Linked DNA regions of Homo sapiens. The protein of the gene in region 1 interacts with the protein of each later gene in a biochemical or structural test. Each region holds a gene or a part of one and is shown on either strand. Other genes may lie near its edges.

The links.
Region 2: the proteins of VDR (region 1) and CCND3 form a complex in vitro, tested with the Homo sapiens proteins (one study listed by BioGRID).
Region 3: the proteins of VDR (region 1) and UBR5 form a complex in vitro, tested with the Homo sapiens proteins (one study listed by BioGRID).
Region 4: the proteins of VDR (region 1) and NLRP3 form a complex in vitro, tested with the Homo sapiens proteins (one study listed by BioGRID).

What each region holds. Positions count from the first base shown.
Region 1 is NC_000012.12:47,841,014-47,846,010, reverse strand, and holds the end of VDR (vitamin D3 receptor), read left to right. Parts: intron 1-1,005; coding exon 1,006-1,265; coding exon of another isoform or gene 1,266-1,466; 3' UTR 1,467-4,474; downstream 4,475-4,997.
Region 2 is NC_000006.12:41,934,431-41,938,826, reverse strand, and holds the end of CCND3 (G1/S-specific cyclin-D3), read left to right. Parts: exon of another isoform or gene 1-661; intron 662-1,432; coding exon 1,433-1,592; intron 1,593-2,131; coding exon 2,132-2,268; intron 2,269-2,719; coding exon 2,720-2,887; coding exon of another isoform or gene 2,888-2,976; 3' UTR 2,977-3,875; downstream 3,876-4,396. UniProt on the Homo sapiens protein: Regulatory component of the cyclin D3-CDK4 (DC) complex that phosphorylates and inhibits members of the retinoblastoma (RB) protein family including RB1 and regulates the cell-cycle during G(1)/S transition.
Region 3 is NC_000008.11:102,402,685-102,409,723, reverse strand, and holds part of UBR5 (E3 ubiquitin-protein ligase UBR5), read left to right. Parts: intron 1-7,039. UniProt on the Homo sapiens protein: E3 ubiquitin-protein ligase involved in different protein quality control pathways in the cytoplasm and nucleus. Mainly acts as a ubiquitin chain elongator that extends pre-ubiquitinated substrates.
Region 4 is NC_000001.11:247,411,855-247,419,196, forward strand, and holds the start of NLRP3 (NACHT, LRR and PYD domains-containing protein 3), read left to right. Parts: upstream 1-4,318; 5' UTR 4,319-4,339; exon of another isoform or gene 4,340-4,461; intron 4,462-4,558; exon of another isoform or gene 4,559-5,192; intron 5,193-6,198; 5' UTR 6,199-6,940; coding exon of another isoform or gene 6,941-6,946; coding exon 6,947-7,223; intron 7,224-7,342. UniProt on the Homo sapiens protein: Sensor component of the NLRP3 inflammasome, which mediates inflammasome activation in response to defects in membrane integrity, leading to secretion of inflammatory cytokines IL1B and IL18 and pyroptosis.

The DNA.
Region 1 (4,997 bases):
CAACATTCCTGTTATTTGAGGTTTCTTGCGGGCAGGGTACAAAACTTTGGAGCCTGAGAGATGGTTCTGCCTATATAGTTTACCTGATTGATTTTGGAGGCAATGTGCAGTGACCCTTGACCTCTTCCGCTGGTTAGAGGTGAGAAGAGGGAGAAAAGGCCGAAGAGGAAGTTATTGTGACCTTGGGGACATGATGTCGGTGATGAGGTCCAAAGAGGGGCGGCCCTGCCTCAGCCTGTGCTAGTGGCCTGTGCCCAGGGATGCTTTCCTGGACTGGAGGCTCAAGGAATGGAGATGGGCTCCTCTACCCCTGCCCAGCCAGCCTTCTCTCATTCATTCATCCACTTAGCAACAATTTATTGAGCACCTATTAGGTACCAGGCACTATGCTAGGTACTGGGGTTCAGCAGCAAATGGGACACAGGCTCCTCTCCCATGAAGCTTAGGAGGAAACATTAAACAAATGTTATTTAATTATTAATTCCTAACAAGGCAAGAGTTTTAAAAATAAAGTAAGTGATGCTACAGAAGGGTAGAATAGAAGGAGGGAAGCTGACGTGGTCTGGGCTACAGAGGTAGAGTGTTGCCAGGAATGGCCTTTTGGAGGAAGACCTTTTAAGCTGTTATCCAAAGGATCAGTAAGAGTCTGGCAAAGATAGCAGAGCAGAGTTCCAAGCAGAGGGAGCACAGATGTGAAGGCTGGTGGCCAGAGAGCATGGCGCATCGGGACGCTGAGGGATGGACAGAGCATGGACAGGGAGCAAGGCCAGGCAGGGACAGGGCCAGGTGCGCCCATGGAAGGACCTAGGTCTGGATCCTAAATGCACGGAGAAGTCACTGGAGGGCTTTGGGGCCAGGCAGTGGTATCACCGGTCAGCAGTCATAGAGGGGTGGCCTAGGGGGTGCTGCCGTTGAGTGTCTGTGTGGGTGGGGGGTGGTGGGATTGAGCAGTGAGGGGCCCAGCTGAGAGCTCCTGTGCCTTCTTCTCTATCCCCGTGCCCACAGATCGTCCTGGGGTGCAGGACGCCGCGCTGATTGAGGCCATCCAGGACCGCCTGTCCAACACACTGCAGACGTACATCCGCTGCCGCCACCCGCCCCCGGGCAGCCACCTGCTCTATGCCAAGATGATCCAGAAGCTAGCCGACCTGCGCAGCCTCAATGAGGAGCACTCCAAGCAGTACCGCTGCCTCTCCTTCCAGCCTGAGTGCAGCATGAAGCTAACGCCCCTTGTGCTCGAAGTGTTTGGCAATGAGATCTCCTGACTAGGACAGCCTGTGGCGGTGCCTGGGTGGGGCTGCTCCTCCAGGGCCACGTGCCAGGCCCGGGGCTGGCGGCTACTCAGCAGCCCTCCTCACCCCGTCTGGGGTTCAGCCCCTCCTCTGCCACCTCCCCTATCCACCCAGCCCATTCTCTCTCCTGTCCAACCTAACCCCTTTCCTGCGGGCTTTTCCCCGGTCCCTTGAGACCTCAGCCATGAGGAGTTGCTGTTTGTTTGACAAAGAAACCCAAGTGGGGGCAGAGGGCAGAGGCTGGAGGCAGGGCCTTGCCCAGAGATGCCTCCACCGCTGCCTAAGTGGCTGCTGACTGATGTTGAGGGAACAGACAGGAGAAATGCATCCATTCCTCAGGGACAGAGACACCTGCACCTCCCCCCACTGCAGGCCCCGCTTGTCCAGCGCCTAGTGGGGTCTCCCTCTCCTGCCTACTCACGATAAATAATCGGCCCACAGCTCCCACCCCACCCCCTTCAGTGCCCACCAACATCCCATTGCCCTGGTTATATTCTCACGGGCAGTAGCTGTGGTGAGGTGGGTTTTCTTCCCATCACTGGAGCACCAGGCACGAACCCACCTGCTGAGAGACCCAAGGAGGAAAAACAGACAAAAACAGCCTCACAGAAGAATATGACAGCTGTCCCTGTCACCAAGCTCACAGTTCCTCGCCCTGGGTCTAAGGGGTTGGTTGAGGTGGAAGCCCTCCTTCCACGGATCCATGTAGCAGGACTGAATTGTCCCCAGTTTGCAGAAAAGCACCTGCCGACCTCGTCCTCCCCCTGCCAGTGCCTTACCTCCTGCCCAGGAGAGCCAGCCCTCCCTGTCCTCCTCGGATCACCGAGAGTAGCCGAGAGCCTGCTCCCCCACCCCCTCCCCAGGGGAGAGGGTCTGGAGAAGCAGTGAGCCGCATCTTCTCCATCTGGCAGGGTGGGATGGAGGAGAAGAATTTTCAGACCCCAGCGGCTGAGTCATGATCTCCCTGCCGCCTCAATGTGGTTGCAAGGCCGCTGTTCACCCACAGGGCTAAGAGCTAGCGCTGCCGCACCCCAGAGTGTGGGAAGGGAGAGCGGGGCAGTCTCGGGTGGCTAGTCAGAGAGAGTGTTTGGGGGTTCCGTGATGTAGGGTAAGGTGCCTTCTTATTCTCACTCCACCACCCAAAAGTCAAAAGGTGCCTGTGAGGCAGGGGCGGAGTGATACAACTTCAAGTGCATGCTCTCTGCAGCCAGCCCAGCCCAGCTGGTGGGAAGCGTCTGTCCGTTTACTCCAAGGTGGGGTCTTTGTGAGAGTGAGCTGTAGGTGTGCGGGACCGGTACAGAAAGGCGTTCTTCGAGGTGGATCACAGAGGCTTCTTCAGATCAGTGCTTGAGTTTGGGGAATGCGGCCGCATTCCCTGAGTCACCAGGAATGTTAAAGTCAGTGGGAACGTGACTGCCCCAACTCCTGGAAGCTGTGTCCTTGCACCTGCATCCGTAGTTCCCTGAAAACCCAGAGAGGAATCAGACTTCACACTGCAAGAGCCTTGGTGTCCACCTGGCCCCATGTCTCTCAGAATTCTTCAGGTGGAAAAACATCTGAAAGCCACGTTCCTTACTGCAGAATAGCATATATATCGCTTAATCTTAAATTTATTAGATATGAGTTGTTTTCAGACTCAGACTCCATTTGTATTATAGTCTAATATACAGGGTAGCAGGTACCACTGATTTGGAGATATTTATGGGGGGAGAACTTACATTGTGAAACTTCTGTACATTAATTATTATTGCTGTTGTTATTTTACAAGGGTCTAGGGAGAGACCCTTGTTTGATTTTAGCTGCAGAACGTATTGGTCCAGCTTGCTCTTCAGTGGGAGAAAACACTTGTAAGTTGCTAAACGAGTCAATCCCCTCATTCAGGAAAACTGACAGAGGAGGGCGTGACTCACCCAAGCATATATAACTAGCTAGAAGTGGGCCAGGACAGGCCCGGCGCGGTGGCTCACGCCTGTAATCCCAGCAGTTTGGGAGGTCGAGGTAGGTGGATCACCTGAGGTCGGGAGTTCGAGACCAACCTGACCAACATGGAGAAACCCTGTCTCTATTAAAAATACAAAAAAAAAAAAAAAAAAAATAGCCGGGCATGGTGGCGCAAGCCTGTAATCCCAGCTACTCAGGAGGCTGAGGCAGAAGAATTGAACCCAGGAGGTGGAGGTTGCAGTGAGCTGAGATCGTGCCGTTACTCTCCAACCTGGACAACAAGAGCGAAACTCCGTCTTAGAAGTGGACCAGGACAGGACCAGATTTTGGAGTCATGGTCCGGTGTCCTTTTCACTACACCATGTTTGAGCTCAGACCCCCACTCTCATTCCCCAGGTGGCTGACCCAGTCCCTGGGGGAAGCCCTGGATTTCAGAAAGAGCAAGTCTGGATCTGGGACCCTTTCCTTCCTTCCCTGGCTTGTAACTCCACCAACCCATCAGAAGGAGAAGGAAGGAGACTCACCTCTGCCTCAATGTGAATCAGACCCTACCCCACCACGATGTGGCCCTGGCCTGCTGGGCTCTCCACCTCAGCCTTGGATAATGCTGTTGCCTCATCTATAACATGCATTTGTCTTTGTAATGTCACCACCTTCCCAGCTCTCCCTCTGGCCCTGCCTTCTTCGGGGAACTCCTGGAAATATCAGTTACTCAGCCCTGGGCCCCACCACCTAGGCCACTCCTCCAAAGGAAGTCTAGGAGCTGGGAGGAAAAGAAAAGAGGGGAAAATGAGTTTTTATGGGGCTGAACGGGGAGAAAAGGTCATCATCGATTCTACTTTAGAATGAGAGTGTGAAATAGACATTTGTAAATGTAAAACTTTTAAGGTATATCATTATAACTGAAGGAGAAGGTGCCCCAAAATGCAAGATTTTCCACAAGATTCCCAGAGACAGGAAAATCCTCTGGCTGGCTAACTGGAAGCATGTAGGAGAATCCAAGCGAGGTCAACAGAGAAGGCAGGAATGTGTGGCAGATTTAGTGAAAGCTAGAGATATGGCAGCGAAAGGATGTAAACAGTGCCTGCTGAATGATTTCCAAAGAGAAAAAAAGTTTGCCAGAAGTTTGTCAAGTCAACCAATGTAGAAAGCTTTGCTTATGGTAATAAAAATGGCTCATACTTATATAGCACTTACTTTGTTGCAAGTACTGCTGTAAATAAATGCTTTATGCAAACCAATTTGCCTTATCCTTATAAGGACCTTATGGGAGATGAATCATTATTACCCCCATTTGACAGAAAGGATAGCTTGAGCAATGCCACACTAGCAAGGGATGGGATTTGAACCTTCAGCAGCTAGGTTCAGAAGCCACAAATTAACTGCTACATTGTCCTGCTTCCTATTGAGTTGGGGGACCTGACAGACGACTGATGGTCTTGCTAGCTCTCTCCTAGAGAGGAGATAAAAGAGGTTCCCATTCCTAAAGCAGGCCCTGAGCCAGGAAAATTAGAGGTGCTGGACCAAACTGTGCTCTACTCCCAGGAAGTGTGCAGTCAATATATGACACCTACGTGAGACCCTCAAAAATGAAAACCAAACAGCTACTGGCAAAACTGTGTCTGCCATTAGAGATGGCGGCTGTGCCAGTGACCTGGAGGATTACAAATGACTGCTGTGCAGAAACAGGACTCCTAAGGGGCCCAACTTATGCCGATGCACTCCATTCTGCTTCCCAAGGAAGTGGGGTTTATGATGAAGGGT
Region 2 (4,396 bases), on another chromosome or scaffold:
GAAGGAGGGCAAGGTCCTGCCTCAGCATCGCACTGAGCAGATGAGTGTAGAACCTGGGTCTTCTAGCTAGACCAGGTTGCCTTAAAAGTCAGGAATGTGATGGCCGCTGCCACCTACTGAAGCTAAGCACTCCCAGGGGTGTGTTCTCCACCAGTTAACACTGGGATTCTCTGGTTGCCTGGATATGGGGAAAGGTGGCCACTTTCCCTCAAACACAACCCCTTGCCTCCCCATAGGGAGAGTCCCACTCCCAGTTGCCTTCCAGATGCTTCCTTAGAAGCTGAGTCCCTTCTGTTTACTGCTGAGTTAGGAGTTGGCTCCTGGGACATGCACTAGGGGTAGCGTTGTAATTTATCTGTCTCACTTCTGGCTCCAGGCCAGGCTATTTTCTCTGGGGCTCTGTGAGGGTAGGGGTTGATTTGAGAGGCTGACACCTAAGCTGGGGCCAAGAGAGAGACAGCTGTGGCTGGGGCCTGGAAGAGGTTGGGTGGGGTTGCCATTTCTGCCTCAATAAGGAGTCAAACCCACAAGTTCCTTCCTGAGATAAAACAATGAAGAAATCCTCATGTGTGCAACTCAGAAATGGGGCCAGGTCTGGGAACCCATGACGAGTGGACTGGGGTGGAGCTCCCAGCCTTCTCCCGAGACCTAGTACTGGCAGGTAGGCTTGGGTAGGTGAGGATAGGGCTTGATCCCTCTGGAATCATTTGGAGCCATCCTGTCTGGCTTGGCCTCTACCTATCCTCCTGAAAGTCAAGTGGCATGGGGCACTACGGGTTCCAGCTAAAGGGGGTGGGGTGGGGTGCTATACCTCAGGACCCATCCCTGATATCCTACCAAGGGGATGTGGCTTGGGTTGGGCAATCTCCCCTTTGAGGAACCTGAGAAAAGGCTCTGTGGCTGTCATTGGAGGAGTCATACTCCCTTCTGTTGATTCAAGAAGTGTGGACTTGGCTGGGATGCAGAGTTGCAGGGGAAGCTAGTGGTGATCTCCCCTTTCACAAATCCTTGGGGTTGAGAGAGTCTTTCTGCTTCATCCCAGAAGAGAGCCCAGTTCATGGTGATGCTGTGGTATCTGCTGCTTCCGTCTTTCAGCCCTGGCTGGAGAAATCCTCAGAGCCCTGAATGAAGTCAGGAGAAGGCCTGGATTATTGGCCCCTTAAACATAACCAGACAGGATTAAAAGGGATAATCCATGTAAAGCATGTTGTCCTGGCACCTAGTAAATGATCAGTAAGTGCTCAAAGCACATGCCTCCTCCTCTTCCCTGCCTTGAACTCCATGGTGCCCGGCCTTAAAATCAGAAACAGAACTGGGGTCTTGGGCTTTAAAAGTTTGATGGGCTTCCCTGCCTGAGACTTTGAGACTTCTGCTTTGCTCCCTCCTCTTCACTTCTCCAGCCACTGACCCCACCCTTTCCCCGCTTTTTCAGGACTGGGAGGTGCTGGTCCTAGGGAAGCTCAAGTGGGACCTGGCTGCTGTGATTGCACATGATTTCCTGGCCTTCATTCTGCACCGGCTCTCTCTGCCCCGTGACCGACAGGCCTTGGTCAAAAAGCATGCCCAGACCTTTTTGGCCCTCTGTGCTACAGGTAAGAGCCCTATGCACATTTTTGCCAAATTGGAAAAATCAGAAGACTTATAAGGGTGAGAGGTAACTGAAGATTCTGGTTTATACTGTCAAAATTCCTTTGTGAAAATTATACCCCCTCTGAGCCCCCAGTCTCAATGCAGAAAAGCAGGTTATAATCAGCTATATGGGATCTCAGACCCCTCCAGTTTGTAGTGGGGACACTGAGGGTATAGAGAGAAGTGACTTGCCCAAGGTCTCACAGTGAACAGGTTGGGAACAGAACCCCAGTCTCTTGGCCCTAGTTGTGTTCCCATACTAGGGAGTGTCTTGTCTATTCCCGGGACCTATGGAAACTGGCAGTTGGTTCTGATCTCTAGGAAAGATACTCTTTCCTGTCTTCCTCCCTTGCTGATATCTTGCCCCACCCACTGCTGGAGTTTTCCAGCATGTCCTCTGCTCTACTCATGCTGCCTGGCACTTTCCAAGGAGTCGGAAGTCCATGCTGGCCGTTATCCTTCAGGTTTCCTTCTCTCATGGTTCCCTTTCCTCCTCTCCAAGATTATACCTTTGCCATGTACCCGCCATCCATGATCGCCACGGGCAGCATTGGGGCTGCAGTGCAAGGCCTGGGTGCCTGCTCCATGTCCGGGGATGAGCTCACAGAGCTGCTGGCAGGGATCACTGGCACTGAAGTGGTGAGTGCTGGGTAGCTGGGCAGCAGCCTCTCCATTCATAAAGTAGTGCTATGCCCTGAGCCTCCAGTAGAGGGAAACCTCCAACCCCAACCTGGTCCCAAGTCCTGGTTTCACAACCTTGGGGCTTTGTGGCTTTTTATCTCCTGCCTTGGTCTGGGGAAGAGCAAGTATCTTGGGTGGGGTGAAGGGCACTGGCCCTAGGGGTTCTTTTCTTGCCAAGTGGTGTGCTGGAGTGGGGGTGGGGGGTTTGGTGTCAGATGCAGGGCTGCTCTCACACTCCCTTGCCACATCCTCTTGCTAGTTTCTGAGAACTAAAGAGCGATTCCTGGGGCCGGGCTGTGGCCTAACCTCCCCAGACTTCCCCATGTGTTGGGAGCTGTCCTTCCCCTGCACCTGCTGCCAGATGCTATGGGGGGAGTGTTTGCTCCTCACTCTTCTCCCATGTTCCCAGGACTGCCTGCGGGCCTGTCAGGAGCAGATCGAAGCTGCACTCAGGGAGAGCCTCAGGGAAGCCTCTCAGACCAGCTCCAGCCCAGCGCCCAAAGCCCCCCGGGGCTCCAGCAGCCAAGGGCCCAGCCAGACCAGCACTCCTACAGATGTCACAGCCATACACCTGTAGCCCTGGAGAGGCCCTCTGGAGTGGCCACTAAGCAGAGGAGGGGCCGCTGCCACCCACCTCCCTGCCTCCAGGAACCACACCACATCTAAGCCTGAAGGGGCGTCTGTTCCCCCTTCACAAAGCCCAAGGGATCTGGTCCTACCCATCCCCGCAGTGTGCACTAAGGGGCCCGGCCAGCCATGTCTGCATTTCGGTGGCTAGTCAAGCTCCTCCTCCCTGCATCTGACCAGCAGCGCCTTTCCCAACTCTAGCTGGGGGTGGGCCAGGCTGATGGGACAGAATTGGATACATACACCAGCATTCCTTTTGAACGCCCCCCCCCACCCCTGGGGGCTCTCATGTTTTCAACTGCCAAAATGCTCTAGTGCCTTCTAAAGGTGTTGTCCCTTCTAGGGTTATTGCATTTGGATTGGGGTCCCTCTAAAATTTAATGCATGATAGACACATATGAGGGGGAATAGTCTAGATGGCTCCTCTCAGTACTTTGGAGGCCCCTATGTAGTCCGTGCTGACAGCTGCTCCTAGAGGGAGGGGCCTAGGCCTCAGCCAGAGAAGCTATAAATTCCTCTTTGCTTTGCTTTCTGCTCAGCTTCTCCTGTGTGATTGACAGCTTTGCTGCTGAAGGCTCATTTTAATTTATTAATTGCTTTGAGCACAACTTTAAGAGGACATAATGGGGTCCTGGCCATCCCACAAGTGGTGGTAACCCTGGTGGTTGCTGTTTTCCTCCCTTCTGCTACTGGCAAAAGGATCTTTGTGGCCAAGGAGCTGCTATAGCCTGGGGTGGGGTCATGCCCTCCTCTCCCATTGTCCCTCTGCCCCATCCTCCAGCAGGGAAAATGCAGCAGGGATGCCCTGGAGGTGGCTGAGCCCCTGTCTAGAGAGGGAGGCAAGCCCTGTTGACACAGGTCTTTCCTAAGGCTGCAAGGTTTAGGCTGGTGGCCCAGGACCATCATCCTACTGTAATAAAGATGATTGTGAAATAAAACTGGCTTTGGCTTCTTGGATTGGTGTGTGGGTAAGTCTATTTCTGCACTGTATGAGGTAAGGAGGTGGAAGTCAATGGTCTAAAGCAGGGATCATTGAGCCTTTTCTGTAAAGGGCTGGATATTTAGGCTTTGTGGGGTACATGGTCTCTGACCCAAATATAGTCAGTTCTGCTTTATAATGTGACCTATGCGTTCCTAAAAATCACTATGCCATGCAAAATTGCACAATAAAGACCACAGGTCTCATGGGAAAAATGGGGCTTGAAGCACAACACTCAAATGAGTGACACATTTAAAAAAAAAGGATAGCTTGGTTTTTACATATGTCAAATGGTTGAGAAATTATATCACAATAAATATGGCCTTTTATCTTGAAGACATGCACTTTGCTTTTGGAAGTGGACGTCGGAAGGGTTGCTCAACACAGGTGGGGAGATGAGTGAGGTAGCTGGTACATGTTTAGGTGTGAGTTTTGTGTACTACTTAGGCTTGGTTCAGCTAGATACAGTTTCCCATATTC
Region 3 (7,039 bases), on another chromosome or scaffold:
TTTTAATTAACTAGAATAAGCGTATTTTCATCTAAAGATAAAAACTTTACCAAGTTTTAGTAAGTTGGGGCAATAAAAAAGCTACTGCTACTGTAGCTTGACTTTTTTTATTATGAGAAATGTATGAGAGTCACAAATAAAATGATAATCATAGTTATGTATGAAAAGGGTGTAAATAGACTTTATACTTTGGAATAAAAGTAGTAAGATTAGACAGGCAGAATGGTACTGCAAATAAATTGCTCAGCTGAAGAAAACTTGGTCCTCAAAACAGTAGTGTTTTCTTCAAATACGTTTTCTTTCTTTACCCACATCCTCTTAAAAAGTCAAATATTTTGTTCAGCATCATAGTCTGATGTCTCAAGTGTCTAAAATGTACAAAGCATAAAAAAGTATCTTTTTTTCATAATTTGTGTTTTCAGACTTGCCAATAATGAATAATAATGATGCCAGGATGAAATTGACAAATACAGGTGGGGATGGCTGGGGTGGAAAGAAGAGGATGTTGGCTGTGACTTCCCAGAATGATTACAAGGTGCCTGGCACAGAATGCTGGGCCCTCAAGCAAATATTCATTGAGCTGAATTGAAACCATTCAGTGCTCAGATACTTTGGACATTTTGATCTCCTTTCCAATGGATTTCTTGAGTTAGTACTACGTTCCTGCTTAAAACATTGTCTCAGAGAAACAGTAAAACAATATAAAGAATGTGGTTCGTCGAGCTTGAGGGGAGAGCTGAAAGGCCTGCCTCACTAATAGCCTGGAAAGTGCCTCACTAATGAGCTGAAAAAATAGGCACAGAGATTTACAGTGTTTATGCAGGGATACAACTACTGAGAGACAGCTGAGGTCCACCTGATGGGTCTTCTGACTTTTCTTTAAAGTCCAGGGCTCCATTCCACTTCACGTGGCTTGTATTCCAGAATGGTTCTGCTGTCTCAGACATCCCAGCCTTCAGGCAGTGTGGCCACCTGTCTTAGTGTTTTGATTCCGTTTTCCCCTCAACTGCTCTTTCCAGGGCTCCTAATGGGTTTATGCCTTTTTTTCAGAGGCTGACGCTCTTAACCTTTTCTTGGTACTAGGTTAGGATAGGTCTTCTTAAGGTGATGTGGTTATGGCATTTATTGTCCTTGTCCTGAATTATTCCTCAAGATGCAGGTTAGTTACGAAACAAACCAGTTCTTATTGCTTGTCTGTATGTGGAATTTTCCTGTGAGATTTGCCTTTTGGCATTACAACGTATTGTGCAGTCATAAACAGTCTTTATTGAGATTGTCATATCAAAAGGATTTTTCTCTAAGCTTAGAGTTTCCCTTTCAGGTGTCATAACACAAGGTAAGATACTATAGACAGGAGTTTCAAACTCTGCGCTGGTAGCCTAGTCATTTAACCTCTTAGAACCCCCCACATCAATCTCTGAATTAGGTGTAGCACTCTCCTCAAGGTCAGGGAGGAACAGTTGAGACAGTAGATGGGAAAAGATCAATATTATAATGTGGATTCTACGGAAAACATTACGAAGAGATGGTTACTTTTAACTTTTTACGTGTTGCCTGGTTTCCAGATAGCAAAGCAGGAACTCAAAAGAGTTGCCCTAGAATATCCTTAGCATTCAGAGCAGAATCGACTCTTAGTTCTAGATTAGTACTTCTCAGCTTGGTGTGATTTTGCACCCTCCACACACAACCCCCTCCCCTTATTGGGCAGTGTCTGGAGACATTTTTTATTGTCACAGCTGGGGCATTGCTACTGGCCTCTAGTGGATGGAGGCCAGAGATGCTGCTAAACATCCTATAATGCATAGGATAGCCCCCACAACAAAGAATTACGGGGTCCAAAATGTCAGTTGTGCTAAGGTTAAGGAAGCCCATCCTAGATGATCTTCAATGCATTTGGTTGTAAAAATAAGTGAAAATGACTTTTATGAAGAATATTTCAAGCAATATACGTTCTTTTTTTTTTTCTTTTTTGAGACACAGTTTTGCTTTGTCTCCTAGGCTGGAGGCAGTGGCCGGATCTCGGCTCAATGCAACGTCCACCTCCTGGGTTCAAGCGATTCTCCTTCCTCAGCCTCCCAAGTTACAGACGCATACCACTATGTCTGGCTAATTTTTGTATTTTTAGTAGAGATGGGGTTTCGTCATGTTGGCTAGGCTGCTCTTGAACCTAACCTCAGGTGATCCATCTGCCTCAGCCTACCAAAATGCTGGGATTACAGGCATGAGCCAATGTACCTGGCCGCAATATATATTCTTAATTTTTAAAACATGACTGTTTAAATTAAGATTAAGGCCCGGCCAGTGGCTCATGCCTGTAATCCCAGCACTTTGGGTGGCTGAGGCGGGCGAATCACTTGAGGTCAGGAGTTCGAGACCCCTTAGCCTGGCCAACATGGTGAAACCCCATCTCTACTAAAAATACAAAAATTAGCTGGGTGTGGTGGTGGACGCCTGTAATCCCAGCTACTCAAGAGGTTGAGGCAGGAGAATTGCTTGTGCCTGTGAGACAGAGCTTGAGCCCGTGAGGCAGAGGTTGCAGTGAGCCAAGATCGCGCCACTGCACTCCAGCCTGGGCGACAGAGCAAGACTCTGTCTCAAAAAAAAGGAAAAAAAAATTAATTAAGATTGATTAAAATTAAATAAAAATTTAAGTCACTTCATCTGTAGCTAGTCACATTTTAAGTGCACTGTAGTGCCACGTAGCTACTCACTACCACATTGGACAGTGCAAATACAGAGCAGTGCCATCATCACTGAAAGTTCTCTTGGATAGTGTTGGCATAGAAAGTGTGTTTTTGCACAAGTCTTGGCATTCAGTGAGTGCTCATTATGTTTATTAAGAACTTTGAGGTTTTAAAGACTCAGGCATATCTTCACTCAGTAGGAGCCAGAAAATATGCCAGGGATTATATGAAGCATAACAAAGGTTGTGGTGAGTAGAGGTTATAATAGTTGAAAGCTGCTTGAAATTTTATTGTGGTGCACCAAAAAACAAAAAAACAAAAAAATCAATAAAAAAACCCCCCAGACATTAGGTTGTGTGGGATGGAGCATCATATTACCAAATCAGTGAAAAATCTCACCATTTGATTATTGAGATTGTTACCTAAAAGCAATACTAAATGCATTATGCCAGGTGCGGTGGCTCATGCCTGTAATCCCAGCACTTTGGGAGGCTGAGGTGGGCGGATCATCTGAGGTCAGAAGTTTGAGACCAGCCTGGCCAACATGGTGAAACCCCATCTCTACTAAAAATACAAAAATTAGCTGGGCATGGTGGTGCATGCCTGTAGTTGCAGCTACTCAAGAGGCTGAGGCAGGAGAATTGCTTGAACCTGGGAGGTGGAGGTTGCAGTGAGCCAAGATTGCGCCACTGCACTCCAGCTTGGGTGACAGAGCGAGACTCCATCTCAAAAACAAAAACAAAACCAAAAACAAACAATAAAAAACCAATACTAGATTTATTGTATTGGAAAAGTACAGTCTGGCCTAACTAAAATGTTTAAATGAATTTGCTTAAGTAAGATTAACAGCAGGGTGTAGAATAGCCAAGCAAAATAGAAAATCAAAACAAAGGCAGAGCAATTTTATAAATCAGGATATCTGTGACTGAATCATAGGCCTAGGAATAAACAGACACTTGTGAAGAAAATTACAGGATACACAGGAATACGACTAGGAATAATAGGTGAAATTAGGAAAGGTCAGGGTTTTTTCCCCTAACAATTAGACCATTAGGTTATTTAGGAAATAGTTTCCAAAGGAAAATTTAATTGCTGAAGACTGAGTTACATGGACGTAGATCTTATAAGGTATATTAAAGGAAGCAATTTTATGTTACAGGAGGATGTACTTAATGTCTCCCCTCCCTCATTTTATCATACATATTTATTTTGTTTTTTGAGTCTCGCTCTTGCCCACGCTGGAATGCAGTGGTGCCATTTTGGCACAATCTTGGCTCACTGCAACCTCCGCCTCCCGGGTTCAAGCGATTCTGCTGCCTCAGCCTCCTGAGTAGCTGGGAGTACAGGCGCACGCCACCATACCTGGCTAATTTTTGTATTTTTAGTAGAGATGGGGTTTCACCGTGTTGATCACGCTGGTCTTGAACTCCTGACCTCGTGATCTGCCCACCTAGGCCTCCCAAAGTGTTGGGATTACAGGCGGGAGCCACTGCGCTCGCCCATATTATACATATTTCTAATTAAGAAAACAGACTCTAGTTAGCATCCATGTTTCTGTCATTTTGACTCCTTGGCATTCTGGTCATGTGAAAATAGCCTCTTCTCTTGGCTCACTGTGGTTATGAATTGTTGGTTTATTTTTAGAACTGGTTTTTAAGTTTTCCCCTGAGTATTATTTTTAAGCCTTTTATTTTGGAAAATTTTAAGCATATACAAGAGTAGAGAGAATAGTATGATGAACAACCATGTTCCCATCACACAGTCTTAACAGTTGTCAACTCATGGCCAATCTGATTTCAACTCTCTCCCCATTTATTCTCCTCTATCAGGTAATTTAATTGCTGTATCTTCACTATATATTTCAAAATATGAAGCCTTTAAAAAAAAACCTGAAAAAACCTTAATAACAAAATTGCCCAGATTTTCCTGTTGTCTCATAAATGCTTATTTCTGATTGACAATTTTGATAATTTTACTTAATAAAGCTGATTGGGTTCTAACATGTTAAAAAATTTGACATTTGTAGAATAACCTTAGAATTTGGATTGTAACCTTAGAAGAAGGGGCCACTGGGGAATTATTTAGTTCCTTAAAGCTCAGTGCTGTAACTTTTTTTTTTTTTTTTTTTTTTTGAGATGGAGTTTCGCTCTTGTTGCCCAGGCTCGAGTGCAGTGGCGTGATCTCTGCTCACTGCAACTTCCGCCTCCCGGGTTCAAGTGATTCTCCTGCCTCAGCTTCCCAAGTGGCTGAGATTATAGGTGTGAGCCACCACGCCTGGCTAATTTTGTATTTTTAGTGGAGACGGGGTTTGACCATGTTGGTCAGGCTGGTCTCGAACTCCCGACCTCAGGTGTTCACCTGCCTTAGCCTCCCAGGGTGTTGGGATTACAGGCGTGAGCCACTGTGCCAGGCCTCAGTGCTATAACTTCTTAACCTCCGGTATGACAGCATTTTTTGTCAGCAGTCACTTGTAATTGTTAGATAAGGATGATAAGACAGGATTCTTGAAATTCAGTGATTTTTCCATGGGGTCACTTTGAGAAATAAGATTGTCATGTGAAAAGTTTGCAGCATTTTCATGAACTAATAGACAGGTGAGGTATTAGTCAATTGAACTTGGCTATAAGAAATTATTCTCTGAGATCATATTTCTTATTACTTTCTTGAGACAATCAGTGTAGTGGTAACAAAACCCCTTCCAAATTAGAAATACGATAAATTCTTAGATAACCATGCTTTGTAACATTGTCATTTTGTCAGGATATTAAAGAAGGTATTAATATTTAATGTTATTTTACTTGTAAATACACAATTTATGTTACTTGCACAGCTAAAGTACTGTTATTTGTTCAATTTCTGACAGTATCACTTAATAAAATGTCTTTGACTCTTTCATCTTTATTGAGTTATACTTTACATTCAGTAAAATTAACCCATTTTAGGTGTACAGTTTGATGAATTTCGGCAAATGTGTACAGTTGTGTAATCACCACCACAATCCAGGTACAGGACATTTTCATCACCCCAAAAAGTTACCTGGTTTCCCTTTGTATTTTCAGTCACTTCCCCCTAGGCTAGGTCCTGGCTACCTAGCAACCATTGTTCTGCTTTCTCTCACTGTAATGCTTTTCCTTTTTGAATTTCATAGAAATGGAATCATGTGTCTGTTTTCTTTTGCTTAGAACAGTGCTTTTGCAACAGATCTGTGTTGCAGCATGTAGTAGTTTCTTCTTTTATATTAAAAGTAGTATTTTCATTGCTTGACCTGGGAAGGTGGAGGTTGCAGTGAATCAAGATTGTGTCATTGAATTCCAGCCTGGGCAACAGAGTGAGACTCTGTCTCAAAACAAACAAAAAAAGTAGTACTTATTTCATGACTGTACCACAGTTTTTAAATCTGCTTTCTAGCTGATATAAATTTGGGTAGTTTACTCTTTCTAGCTATTCTCTAGTCTTTATTTTTTTCTTGTTTATTTATTATTTTAATTTTTTTTGAGACAGGCTCTTGCGCTATTGCCCAGGCTGGAGTGTAGTGATGTGAACATGGCTCACTGCAGCCTTGACCTTCTGGGCTCAAGCGATCCTCCTGCCTCAGCCTCCTGAGTATCTGGGACTACAGGCTTGCATTACCACATCTGGCTAATTTTTAATTTTTTGTAGAGATGGAGTCTCTCTGTGTTGCCCAGGCTGGTCTCGAACTCCTGGGCTCAAGCAATTATCCCGTCTCAGCCTCTCCAAGGTGCTGGGATTACAGGCATGAACCACTGTGCCTCGCCTTATTTATTTCTTTAAAATTAGAGACATGGTCTTGCTGTGTTGCCTAGGCTGGTCTCAGACTCCTGGCCTCAAGCTGTCTTCCCACCTTGGCCTCCCAAAATGCTGGGATTACAGGCAGGAGACACCATGGCTGGCCTGAAGTTTTTCTTGGCTTCAATTTATCACAATGTTTTTCATAGGAAAAGTCCACTGATAATAAAAACCTAGATTTTTCTTGACAGCAAATTTTTGTGTTAATTAAAAAACATACTAGTATATGTAAAAAGATTATATTTTAGAATTCCATTAAATGTAATGGTTGTATTCTAGATTGCTAGTTATAAAGATGATGATAGTGGCTAGTCGACAAAGCACTGTGATGAATGGATCAGTAGATAAGTTTTTATTTTCTTCCCCATGAGTTCAGGCTCCATTTCTGTGATATAGAAGTGTCGAGAACCTGCCGTTTCAAGAAATTGGCTCTGCTCCAGCATGAATCTGCTGTTCAGAATTCAGGCGATGAGGTATTCCAGGTCTTTACTTGAATTCAGATACCAGGTCTACCTCACAGACAACCTGGAACTCCAGAGATGGCCTTA
Region 4 (7,342 bases), on another chromosome or scaffold:
GAATAGAAAACCAAATTGTGGCCTATCCAACCCATGAAATACTTAACTGCAGTAAAAAGGAATAAGCTACTGATCTGAATCTCACAGGCATCATATGAAGTGAGCGGACTCGCTCACCAAAGGCTGCACACTGTTTATGTGATGCTCTGGAAAAGGTAATGCTTTAGCAGGTGGAAGAAGTGGGGCTGCGGGTGGGGACAGAGGCTGACTATGTGGCAGCACAGTGGGTGGGGACAGAGGCTGCACAGGGAGCATGTGCAGCTGATGCAGGTGCTCTGTGTGGGCTGTGGTGGTGGGTAGCTATATGCTTGTGAGCACTCACAGGCCTGTGCATGAAAAAGGTGCGAATATTTATTTTATTGTACATATTTCAGGTGTATAACATGGCAGTTTGATATACATAGTGAAATGATTGCTGCAGTCAAGCAAATTAACATGAGTTAACATAGCCACCATCTCACATAATAATCTTTCTTGTGGGTGGTAAAAACATCTAAAATCTCTCTTAGCAAATTTCAGGTTTATAATATTTTTAACTATCGTTCCCACACTGTTTGTTAGATCTCTCGGCTTATTTATCCTACATAACCGAAATTTCGTACCCTTTGACCGTCATTTTATTTCCTCTACCCCGGTAACTCTCTGTTTCTATATATTCAACTATTTTTTTTTGAGACAGGATCTCGGTCTGTCACTCAGGCTGGAGTGCAGTGGTGTGATCTCGGCTCACTGCAGCCTCGACCTCCCAGACTCAAGCAATCCTCCCACCTCAGCCTCCCAGCCTCTCAAGTAGCTGGGGTGACATGTGCACACCACTGCACCTGGCTTCCTTCCCTCCCTCCCTCCTTTCTTTTCTTTTTTTCATTTTTTTGGTAGAGGTGAAGCCTCACTATCTTGCCCAGGCTGGTCTCAAGCTCTTGGGCTCAAGTGATCCACTCACCTCAGCCTCCCAAAGTGCTGGGATTACAGGTGTGAGGCACCACTCCTGGCCTAACTTTTTTTTTTTTTTTTTTTAAGGTTCCACATATGAGTGAGATCATGTAGTGTTTGTCTTTCTGTGCCTGGCTTATTATGCTTTGTGTAAAGTCCACCGGGTTCATCTATGTTGTGGCAAATAGCAGAGTCTCAATTTTTAATACTAACTAAGATTGTATTGTGTATATATGCCCCAAACTCTTTATTTATTCATCTGTCAATAGACACTTGGGTTGTTTGCCTATCTGGACCATGGTGAATAATGCTGCTATGAACATGAGTGCACAGATGTCTTTGTGAGGTGGTGATTTTATTTCCTTTGGATACACACTCAGAAGAAGGATTGCTGGGTCATACGGTAGTTCTATTTTTAATTTCTTTAGGAACCTCCATATTGTTTTCTGCAATGGCTGCACCAATCTGCATTCCCAGCAGCAATGTGCAAGGGTTCCCTGTTCTTCACGCCCTAGCCAATGTTTGTCTCTTGTCATTTTGCTAATAGCCATCCTAACAGGTTTGAGGTGGTACCTCATTGTGGGTTTGGTTTGCATTTCCCTGATGATTAGTGATGTTGAGCACTTTTTTGTATACATGTTGACCATTTTTGTTTCTTTTTTAGAGAAATGTCTATTCAGTTCCTTTCTTCATTTTAAAAATCAGATTATTTGTTTTATGCTTTGAGTTGTGTGAATTCCTTACATATTTTGCATATTAACTACTTATCTGATATATGGCTTAAAACTATTTTCTTCCAATTTGTTGGCTACCTTTTCACTCTGTTGATTGTTTCTTTTGCTATACAGGAGCTTTTTACTTTGATGTATTCCCACTTATTTATCTTTACTTTTGTTCCTTTGCTTTTGTTGAGACATTAAAAATATCCATGCCAAGGCTAATATCAAGAAGTTTTCTCCTCTGTTTTCTATTTTTTATATTTAGTTTTTTATCTGTTTAGAGATTGGGTCTCATTCTGTTACCCAGGCTGGAATGCAGTAGTGTCATTATAGCTCACTGTAACCTCAAATTCCTGGGCTCAAGTGATCTTCTTGCCTCGGCCTCCTGAGTAGCTGGGCTACAGGTGCACAGCACCATGCCTGGCTAATTTTTTTTTTTTTAATTTTGTAGACACAAAGTCTCACTATGTTGCCCAGGCTGACTGTGAACTTCTGGCCTCAGGTGATCCTCCTGCCTCAGCCTCCCAGAGTGCTGGGATTACAGGCATGAGCCACCATGCCTGGCTTCTTCTCTATTTTCTTCTAGGAGTTTTACAGTTTTAGATCTTATGTTTAGATCTTTAATCCATTTTGAGTTGGTTTTTGTGTGTGCCAAGTTTTATTCTTTTGCGTGTGGAAATCCAGTTTCACCAAAAGCTTAATTTTTCAAAATCTTATATTTTTCTTGATTTTTTTTTCACACTTCTATAGCCAACATCTTTATTGAAGAGATTGTCCTTTCTCCATTGTGTCTTCTTGGTGACCTTGTCAAAGAATTAGTTGACTGCATATACTTGAGTTTATTTCTGTTCCACTGGTCTATGGGTCTGTTTTTATAAAGGCATGGATTTTTACTGCATATGAATTATACCTAAATTTGTCTTTTTTTTTTCCTTTTTCTGGAGAATGGGGTCTCACTATATTGCCCAGGCAGGTCTCGAACTCCTGGGCTCAAGCTATCCTCCCGCCTCTTGCCTCCCTGAGAGCTGGGATTACAGGCGTGAGCCACTGCGCCCGGCTGAATTATACCTAAATTAACTTGACTAAACAAACAAAAACAAAAAGATCCCAGGTTCAGCCAATGAGCTCCTTTTTTTTTTTTTGAAATGGAGTCTTGCTCTTGTCACCCAGGCTGGAGTGCAGTGGCACAATCTCAGCTCACTGCAGCCTCCACCTCCCAGGTTCAAGTGATTCTCTTGCCTCAGCTTCCTGAGTAGCTGGGATTACAGGTGCCCGCCACCACACCCAGCTATTTTTTTTTATATTTTTAGTAGAGATGGGGTTTCGTCATGTTGGCCAGGCTGGTCTCAAACTCCTGACCTTGTGATCTGCCTGCCTTGGCCTCTCAAAGTGCTGGGATTACAGGCATGAGCCACTGCACCCAGGCTGAGCTCCTTTCTTTTGGAGCATATTTGGTCTGCTTTCTCTCTAGCTTCAGCACCTGAAGTTTTTGCTGCTCCTGCCTCAGCTCCAGCCCCGAATGACACCTTTCACCTGGTTCATGGAGACTCAGGTCTGCTGTCATGCCCCTAAGCAGGACTAGATGCCTCTCTCATGTTGTAGAGCATTCTCTCTGCAGTTCTGTAGAAAGGTGGTAGTCATCGGAACCAACTGCTTATTCTAGCTTCTCTGTGCCAGGCTCTGTTTTAAAGGCCTCACGTTTAGCCATTCACTCAGTGTTTTCTGACAGCCTTCTAGGATAGGTACCGTTATTTGGGTTGATGTAGTGCTTGGTCAAATGCAGTATAATGAAGGGATCAAGGAGGGGGCAATTCCAAGCAAAACCACTTGTTCATCCATCCTGAGTCTAGGAGATTTGGAAGATCTAAAGAAGTAGCAGGCAATTATTGTCACCCTTTTACAGGTATGAGGCACAGACAGACCCAGTCATTTGCTGACATCCCTCCACTGAACTGGGTGCTCGTCCTTTTCACTCACCCAGAGGCTGAGCGAGTGCCTCTCACCCACCAAGCTCTGTTGAACTTGTGCCTTTGCCGGTCTGTGGTCCTGCGGCCGTCTCATGAGCTGCAGAGTAGGTCTGTGTGTGTCTCTCCTCAAGCTACTCAAGCTGAGGCTTTGTGTGCATGCCTGCCACATACCAGCCATTCCGTGAGTGTTAGTGGAACAGGTGAGTCAATGAGTCAGGGAGTAAAATTTGTGCTTTAAAAGTAGAACATGTCGGAGAGAACCTGTACTGCCTTCCAGCCATCTTGCTGTGAGAGGACAGGGCATGGACTCTGGAGTTTGAAGGCTGGGTCAGGTCATGCTCTGGATTCTTTACTCACTCGCATGGCATGTCCTTAGTTTCACTTCCCTCACTCTCAGTGGAGCCGTTGCAGCGGGCAGTGTCAGAGGCAACATCCATTTAGCACTGCCGATTTGACCCCCAGCCCCATCTCATACTGGCCTCCCACCCTGCTTCTGTGGGGTGCCTCAGAGGAGAGCAAGGTGAACCCCAGTATGGAACCGAGACACGGTTTTGACAACACTGTTGATCCCATTTGGAAAATCCAGCTATGTGATTAACCATTAGTCTCTCTGCCTCTGCTCTGATGTAAGTGGAGACCACATCCTTCCTGCCCCTTCTGGGGCTGCGACTGCTATAAATTCATTGCATTTCCTCTCTAGCTGTTCCTGAGGCTGGCATCTGGGTAAGTCCAGCTCCGCGGGGCAGTGTGGGCGACAGGACCGGGAGAGCAGTGGGGGAGATTGTGTTCAGAGGGCAGAACTTGTCCTGGTTAATGCACTAGGAATTTCTTCTGGCGTCTCCAAGGTTGTGCTTCAACAACATTTCTGGAATGTTCTTTTATCATTATTTGGGCTCTACGTGTGCAAGTTCGTGTGTGTGTATGTGGCGGGGGGAAGCGGGGAGGACAGCGGCAGCAACCATAGTTTACACCCACGACTTCAGCAGATTTGCCCAGTATCCCTCCCAGGGGAGAAGATGGATGGGATATACAGAAGGAAACAAACCTCCTTAAAGACCAAAGGGCAGCAGATTTTTGTGCTGGTGTTAGGGTGGAAGGAGCACAGAAGAAAGGCAGAATCCTGATGCAGATGGAAGGACTGATGGGGCAGGAGCTGGGAGGGTATGCGGAGCTAATAGGGCTGTCTGGAGAGCAGTCACCTCAGGATGGGCAGGAGCTGGGAGGGTATGCGGAGCTAATAGGGCTGTCTGGAGAGCAGTCACCTCAGGATGCACAGGGCTGGGTTTGCAGGGCTCAGGAGGCGAGGAGTAGATAGGCAGGAATGGAGATGGGACGGGAGAGATGAGTGAGTCTGAGGCATCTTGACATTGAACTGCAGTCACAGAAATTCCAATTTGGAGAGCTCCACCGTTTTCCAGGCTCTCTGCCTCCCTTGAGTGTTATTTATGGCTTTAGGTTGAGGTGCTTTGCCAAATAGAGTATAATCAAGGGATCAAGGAGGGAACAATTCCAAACAAAGCCAACTTGTTCATCCATCCGGACTCTAGGAGATATGGAAGATCTAAAGATACAGCAGGTGATTGCTAGTTTTTGTGGAACTCACAGTCTAGTTGGGAAGACTATGTTGGTGAATGCTGCAGTGATACACCTGTGATAAATGCTGGGGAAGTGTGTCTTTTAGTCATCTATTTTGTTGTCTTTGTCTTTGTCTGACTGAAACAAGTGATGGAAGACATGGTCTCATATCTCTGGTCAAAATCCTGGCTCTGTTCCTTCCTGGTTCTAAACCCCTCGGCAGGCTTCCTAGTCCCCCTAAGACTCAGTTTATGCATCTATAAAATGGGGCTAGGAATAGGTGCACCTCATAGAGCTCTGTGCAGGTTAGATGGGGAAAAACATCAGTGAGTGCCTAGCCTGTGGAAAGCTCTAAATTAATGTGAATTATAATGATAACAATTGCGAATTTTGCAAGGAGACATTAAAGGATGTATGTTTTTATTTATTTTATTTTATTCTATTTTATTTTTTGAGATGGAGTTTTGCTCTTATTGCCCAGGCTGGAGTGCAGTGGTGTGATCTTGGCTCATCGCAACCTCCGCCTCCTGGGTTCAAGCGATTCTCCTGCCTCAGCCTCCCGAGTAGCTGGGATTACAGGTGCCTGGTACCATGCCCGGTTAATTTTTGTATTTTTAGTAGAGACGGGATTTCTCCCTGTTGTTTGGTGAGCCTGGTCTCCAACTCCTGACCTCAGGTGATCCGCCCACCTCGGCCTCCCAAAGTGCTGGGATTACAGGGATGTATGTTTTTATTATTCTCCATTATGCACTCCCAGCTTCATCTCACTTCAATCCACTGGTTGATAGAAGTGCAGTCAAAGACTGTCCCCTCCTCTGCAAGCTTTTATGTTCTCTCTCCTCTCTCCCTAGCCACGTCCTGTTCTGTTATCAACACACTTACTCACCTCCTGGCCTTCTCCTTCTATTGTCTCTCATCCCTCTTCCCTCACAAAAACAGAAGCAAAGAGCCAGAGCCTTCAGTTTGGAGGAACTGAAAACATTCTCTTCTGCTTTCTCATTTTGTAGATGAGGAAACTGAAGTTGAGGAATAGTGAAGAGTTTGTCCAATGTCATAGCCCCGTAATCAACGGGACAAAAATTTTCTTGCTGATGGGTCAAGATGGCATCGTGAAGTGGTTGTTCACCGTAAACTGTAATACAATCCTGTTTATGGATTTGTTTGCATATTTTTCCCTCCATAGGGAAACCTTTCTTCCATGGCTCAGGACACACTCCTGGATCGAGCCAACAGGAGAACTTTCTGGTAAGCATTTGGCTAACTTTTTTTTTTTTGAGATGGAGTCTTGCTGTGTCGCCTAGGCTGGAGTGCAGTGGCGTGATCTTGGCTCACTGCAGCCTCCACTTCCCGGGTTCAATCAATTCTCCTACCTCAACTTCCTGAGTAGCTGGGATTACAGGCGCCCGCCACCACACCCGGCTCATTTTTGTACTTTTAGTAGAGACACAGTTTTGCCATGTTGGCCAGGCTGGTCTTGAATTCCTCAGCTCAGGTGATCTGCCTGCCTTGGCCTCTCAAAGTGCTGGGATTACAGGCGTGAGCCACTGTGCCCGGCCTTGGCTAACTTTTCAAAATTAAAGATTTTGACTTGTTACAGTCATGTGACATTTTTTTCTTTCTGTTTGCTGAGTTTTTGATAATTTATATCTCTCAAAGTGGAGACTTTAAAAAAGACTCATCCGTGTGCCGTGTTCACTGCCTGGTATCTTAGTGTGGACCGAAGCCTAAGGACCCTGAAAACAGCTGCAGATGAAGATGGCAAGCACCCGCTGCAAGCTGGCCAGGTACCTGGAGGACCTGGAGGATGTGGACTTGAAGAAATTTAAGATGCACTTAGAGGACTATCCTCCCCAGAAGGGCTGCATCCCCCTCCCGAGGGGTCAGACAGAGAAGGCAGACCATGTGGATCTAGCCACGCTAATGATCGACTTCAATGGGGAGGAGAAGGCGTGGGCCATGGCCGTGTGGATCTTCGCTGCGATCAACAGGAGAGACCTTTATGAGAAAGCAAAAAGAGATGAGCCGAAGTGGGGTGAGTGGAAGGAAGACTTTTAAAAAAAATTGTGGCCAAGTGCACATAGTGTACAATTTTCCATCTTTATATATATATATATATATATTTTTTTTTGAGACGGAGTTGCTCTTGTTGCC